2 separate regions of the Homo sapiens genome follow, and region 2 is linked to region 1. The links come from fine-mapping of genetic effects on gene expression. A gene starts in region 1. The other region holds a variant in brackets. All regions are shown on one strand. Distances are between the middles of the regions.

The links.
Region 2: its variant is fine-mapped to the expression of C4orf36 in whole blood (TOPMed, PIP above 0.99).

Annotation. Positions count from the first base shown.
Region 1 is chr4:86,891,208-86,894,120 of GRCh38, forward strand. It overlaps C4orf36 (chromosome 4 open reading frame 36), which reads right to left and starts at 1,215. Exons shown (of 5, transcript NM_144645.4): 1 at 976-1,215; 2 at 249-386. The coding sequence starts at 313. RefSeq lists silencers at 627-686, 897-1,436 and an enhancer at 957-1,612.
Region 2 is chr4:86,930,169-86,933,081 of GRCh38, forward strand. The region is part of intron 2 of AFF1-AS1 (AFF1 antisense RNA 1); the gene reads right to left. It also overlaps a transcript of C4orf36 not described here. Among named protein-coding and RNA genes, the nearest start is that of AFF1-AS1, 3.2 kb to the right of the region's middle. The variant T/C (reference allele first, on the strand shown) is at 1,663.

The sequences.
Region 1 (2,913 bases):
AAACTTCTCTGAACCTCAGTTTTCTCACTTGAAAGTGTTGTGTTGTAAAGACCAAGTAAGATAATTAACTTATAAAAGCAGTTGCCAAAAAAAAAAAAAAAAAAAATCAGATCCCAGACACCTCAAAATACTTCACATAGCCCAGTATCTCATGGGGAGCACAGAGTGTCCAGTCCTTTTATTTAACAAAGACACTCCCCACCGCAGTCAATGCTTACCCTGATTTAAAAAAAAAAAATAGTACTTACACATTATAACAACTGCCCCGCAAAATGGTTTTCACTGTGTTCTTTCTTGGCACTCCATACGCCATGGTGAGTTATTACGGTATGATTTCGTTACATAGGTGCCTGATGGAATGTCACAGATAACTCTGTTCACTTTACCTGAAATGATGGCAACGCACCTAATTAATGCCTCTCACGTGAATATTTTGTAGCCAAATAATAGAAAAAAATTCTGAATGTCAGAAAGTCCTTAATAAGTGTTCATTGAACTGGAACCCCAAGTGTAAAACCGTGTTCTCTTTCATTTTTCCATGAACTCATTTTTTCATTTTTTGCCACCGAATAAGGAGAAAATGCCAGGTAAGTTTCGTCATCCTGAGACAAAGTTTCGGTGTCGCACTCTCTGCCCTTGCCTGAGCCTGCCAAACCAGCTCCAACACCGCTGCGCCAAAATGTGTCTGATCGTGGCAGTGCTGAGCGACCAAAGGCTCTGCCTGCACAGGAACCACCCGCCCCGGCCCGGGCACTTTGAGCAGAGCAATCCTTCCCAGGTTTTCCCTCATTCAAAACACTCAGCACCACTCCCGCGTCCCCGCCCTTGCACGCCGATTCGGGGCGAGTCCCCTACCCTTCCCCGGACGGACGCGCAGGGCCCGGGAGGAACTGGTTCCCGGGACGGGTGGGGGCCTCGGCCGCCCACAGAGCCCGCGGAGAAGGGAACGGCCTCAGCCTCGGCTCCTTCCCACACCTGGGCCCCACCCTGCCTCCGACTCGCCAGGAATGCGCTGTGTGCGCGGGGCTTCCAGGGTGGCGGGTCCCCGCGAGCCGGCGCCGGCGGCCTGGTTACCCGGGCTCCAGGGGCTCGGAGGGTCGCGGCCGGGGTACTGAGGTAAGAGCGCGCTGCGCTAAGCGCACATGGCCGCGCACACGCCTCGGGGCCGCGCCGCAGGCACACGCCTCCTTCCCGCTCGCCGCGGGCGCCGAGTCTGGGGCTCCTCGCGTCACACGGGAGCCTCAACAAAGGGCTTTGTGGGGCCCTCCCCACCCGCCAGGGAGGGGACGCCGGGCCCGGGAGACGCGCCCCGCGGGGTCCGCTCTCTGGTAACCGGGCCGGGGCAGGCCGCGCTCTCGGAATCCAGCCAACCAGCCAGAGAGGGCTGTAAGCCAGACCTTTCCTGGGAAGGACGCTTTCCAATGTAGGGGGCTGCATCCAAGCGATCTGGACTTCGTTTGCGGGCGCCATTTAAAGAAATGTACCCAGTCCTGGCTGCTGACATCTGGGGAACCGAAGCCCTGTTGCCAGCGTTCTCACACTGCAGTGGGTGAAGGCAGTGAGCTCAAAGCCCACGTGTGATATTTTAGGTGTTCGTGTTCAGAGCAAGACAGCATCAATTTCTAAAGCCGTTATTACGCTGTGGTGATTTCGTATTTCTTCATTTGAATACATCAGATGGCCACCCCTTACGGTCAAATGAAACGAGCTTACATTTCCATTTTGAGTGAGGGTTTTGATGTCAGAACTGGTTTGGAATTCTAGCTCTGCCACTTAAGATTTAACCTTAAGATTTCGCATGTCACTGCTCTAAGCATCAATTTCTTCATCTATAAAACAAGGATAATGCTCTATGTCTTAGAGGGTTGTTCTGAGGATGAAAGATCCTGCCCTGAGATTCTCCGCCACGTGATAAATGCCTAATTGATTGTGAGCCTAAAAACAACTTTATGAAATAGGTAAGAGCGATACTACTCATTTCAATTGTGGAGCCGACGAATGAGTTCAGGGTGGTTAAAGGGCTGCCCAGAGTCACATGGCAAGTTCCAAAGCCAACTTTTAAAGATAAACACAGATGGGCCAGGCACGGTGGATGGGCCGGGCGCGTGTCTCACGCCTGTAATCCCAGCAATTTGGGAGGCCGAGAGGGGCAGATCACGAGGTCAAGGGGTTCGAGACCAGCCTGGCCAACCGACATGGTGAAACCCTGTCTCTACTAAAATGCAAAAATTAGCTGGGCGAGGTGGCGCGCGCCTGTCGTCCCAGCTATTCAGGAGGCTCAGACAGGAGAATTGCTTGAACCCGGGAGGCAGAGGTTGCAGTGAGCCGAGATGGCGCCACTGCATTCCAGCCTGGGCAACAGAGACTCCATCTCAAAAAAAAAAAAAAGATAAAACACAGTAACCTTTCCATCTGACAAGCAACTTCTGATCCTTCTGATTAGAGTAGGCTCGCAGGGCTGACCCATCTTTCAAAGGTGCTTTTGTGCCTCCCAGAAACTGGAAGGTGAGGACTGTCACTCGCTCTTCAGCATTTCTGCTCTACCACCAATGAAAAGTGAGCACCGAGGAGTGACAGTGGGTGTTTTCTTTCCACAAAGAATGTTGAAACCCTCAATGGACTGTGAGACCAGTGTACTACAGATTTTGGCCTGAATTTTTATTTATTTATTTATTTATTTATTTATTTATTTATTTATTTATTTATTGAGATGGAGTCTCGCTCTGTCGCCCAGGCTGGAGTGCAGTGGCGCCATCTCAGCTCACTGCAAGCTCTGCCTCCCGGGTTCACGCCATTCTCCTGCCTCAGCCTCTCGAGTAGCTGGGACTACAGGCGCCCGCCACCACGCCCAGCTGATTTTTTTGTATTTTTAGTAGAGACGGGGTTTCACCGTGTTAGCCAGGATGGTCTAGA
Region 2 (2,913 bases), 39 kb after region 1:
CTTCCCACTTCTCAACTATTTGACTTTCCCATAATCATTCAGGTTTCCTTTTCCTCTTCTTATTTAGTCCTCCAGATATAACTGTCAGCATGAAAACCCCATTGCCAGCTCCCTTGAGCCTGCTGATGTGAATTTCACACTGATAGACACTAGTTGAAACACTTATACTAATCTAATTTTGTGTATAGTGTTAAGAACATGGCCTTCAGCCATGGAAGAGCTGAGTTCAAATTCTACTTCTACTATTTAATTGGTTATGTAATCATGATCAAGATGAAATATCTCTCTGAGGTTATAACTTCTTTATTCATGAACTAGACAATATACCCACATTTTCAAGGAGATTAAATAAAGTTATATGTGTACAATGTCTGGGAAATTGTGGAAACTCAGTTAAATCCCTACATTTGTTTTGGGGGATGAAAAAATATTATTGTGCTCACATTGTGTTTTGTTCCAGCTGCACTGGAATTTTGCAAATTACTACTTTAAATGTGAAATCAGTTGAACAATACAACTACATGACTAAAAAGCATTCACAGTCCCCACTGGATTTGGGGAGTAGTGTGTAGCAATGAGGAAAAATTTACATACAATATGAACCTCATATTTGTTAGAAAAAGTGATGTCAGGTCACTAGGAATCACGTTTTCTGCAAAGTATTCATCACAAAATACAGACAGTTATTTTAATTATAATAATTGTGCACCTGGTTCTTCTTACAGCAAGTTCACATTTGCATATCTGCCTCCCAGATAGAGACAGATAACTAAGAATTTCTCTATCTGCCCACAATCTATACCTGGCTTTCTGTACATTTTCTTGCATAACCTTAGGGATTATAATTGTAGCCTGACTGTCTCCAATCCACTTTCATGTGGCAGTCTCAGTAATCTTTCTAAAATGCCACATGATCAAATCAATCTCCTACCCACCGCATTTAGGATGAAAGGAAAGCTTTGTAGGTTGGCATGTAGTGCCCTTCACTATCAGTTTCTGGTTGACTTTTCCTGTCCTATTTCATATCACTGCCCCCCTCATAATCTTTGCCTTGAAGTCCCGCTCCTCCTCTTGATTTCTGTTCTTTTTTGGGAACTGGCCCTTCCTCTACTTCCCTTAACCTGGCTTAGACTAATCCTTCCTCCTTTTTCATCCCTCCTCAGTGCCAGCATCTCCCTCTCCTCATCTACACCGCTTTCCCCGGAGTCTGGGTTGGCTGTTTAATTTAATTTTTTTGTTTTTGTTTTTGAGGTGGGGTCTCATTCTGTCACCCAGGCTGGAGTGCAGTGGCATGATCATACCTCAACGCATCCTCGACCTCCAGGGCTCAAGTTATCCCCCTACCTCAGCCCCTGAAGTAGCTGGGACCTCAGTTGTGCACAACCATGCCTAGCTAATTTTTTTGCTTTCTGTAGATACAGGAACTCACTACGTTGCCTAGGCTGGTCTTGAAGTCCTGGGCTCAAGTGATCCTCCTGCCTCATCCTCCCAACGTGCTGGGATTCTGAACGTGATCACAGTGCCTGGCCTTATTTTATTCTATTTTTAATCATAAGTATATGCTCAGGTTAAGATTTATTTGTTCCGCCAGGTGTGGTGGCTCACGCCTGTAATCCCAGCACTTTGGGAGGCCGAGGCGGGTGGATCACGAGGTCAGGAGAT[T/C]GAGACCATCCTGTCTAACATGGTGAAACTCCGTCTCTACTAAAAATACAAAAAATTGGCCGGGCGTGGTGGCAGGCGCCTGTAGTCCCAGCTACTCAGGAGGCTGAGGCAGGAGAATGGCGTGAACCCGGGAGACGGAGCTTGCAGTGAGCCGAGATTGCACCATTGCACTCCAGCCTGGGCAATAGAGCGAGACTCTGTCTCAAAAAGAAAAAAAAAAAAAAAAAAGATTTATTCCGGGCGTGGTGGCTCACGCCTGTAATCCCAGCACTTTAGGAGGCGAAGATGGGCAGATAACCTGAGGTCCGGAGTTCGAGACCAGCCTGACCAACATGGAGAAACACCCGTCTCTACTAAAAATACAAAATTAGCAGGGCATGGTGGCGCATACCTGTAATCCCAGCTACTCGGGAGGCTGAGGCAGGAGAATCGCTTGAACCCAGGAGGTGGAGGTTGCGGCGAGCTGAGATGGTGCCATTGTACTCCAGCCTGGGGAACAAGAGTGAAACTTCATATCAAAAAAAAAAAAAAAAAAGATTTATTTATATACTTTGCGAGAATAAGTTAATGCCCTTTGAGATATACATGCAGTCATTTGGAGGAACATAATTTAAACTGCTGGCTTAAAATGCTTGGATCTTGCACAACTGCAGAGTTTAGAAGTACTTCAGTTTGACCAAACAGTTGTCCATGTTGTGATGCTGGGCACATTCCTCACCTGCCTCTATCTTAATGTTGTCTTCCCTCCTCATGGGCTGTTTAGGTGCTCTGAGAATACATCCTGTGAGCTTCTATGAGTCCCAGGGGTTTAACTAATTTGTTTTTAAATTTTAAGTAAAATCATGGCTGAAAATTGTCAGGTAACATCCCAGGAGCCCTCATATGAAGAAGCACCTAAAAAGTCCCATCATCATATTTAAAAGGGAGATTTATTTGGGGGGGTGGGGGGGTTCTGTTAAAAAAAAAAAAAAGCACCGATGTCAGAAACATGCTTCATCTTATTAGAAACATAATCTGAAATGTATGAGATTAGGTTGTCAAAATTAAGAAAGTGCTGGAATTTCATTGAGTGTGCTAAAAATGTAATTTAAGAATTCTTGTAAGGAAGATGATGGAGGAAAGTGTAGCTAACAAAGTTAAATATCTGCAACTCCATTACATAATTACTCTCCTTTTGTTTATGTCTGAAATTTAAAAAGTAGATATAAAAAATTTTTTAAAGTAGATATAGTGTAATCACTTTTTAAAATA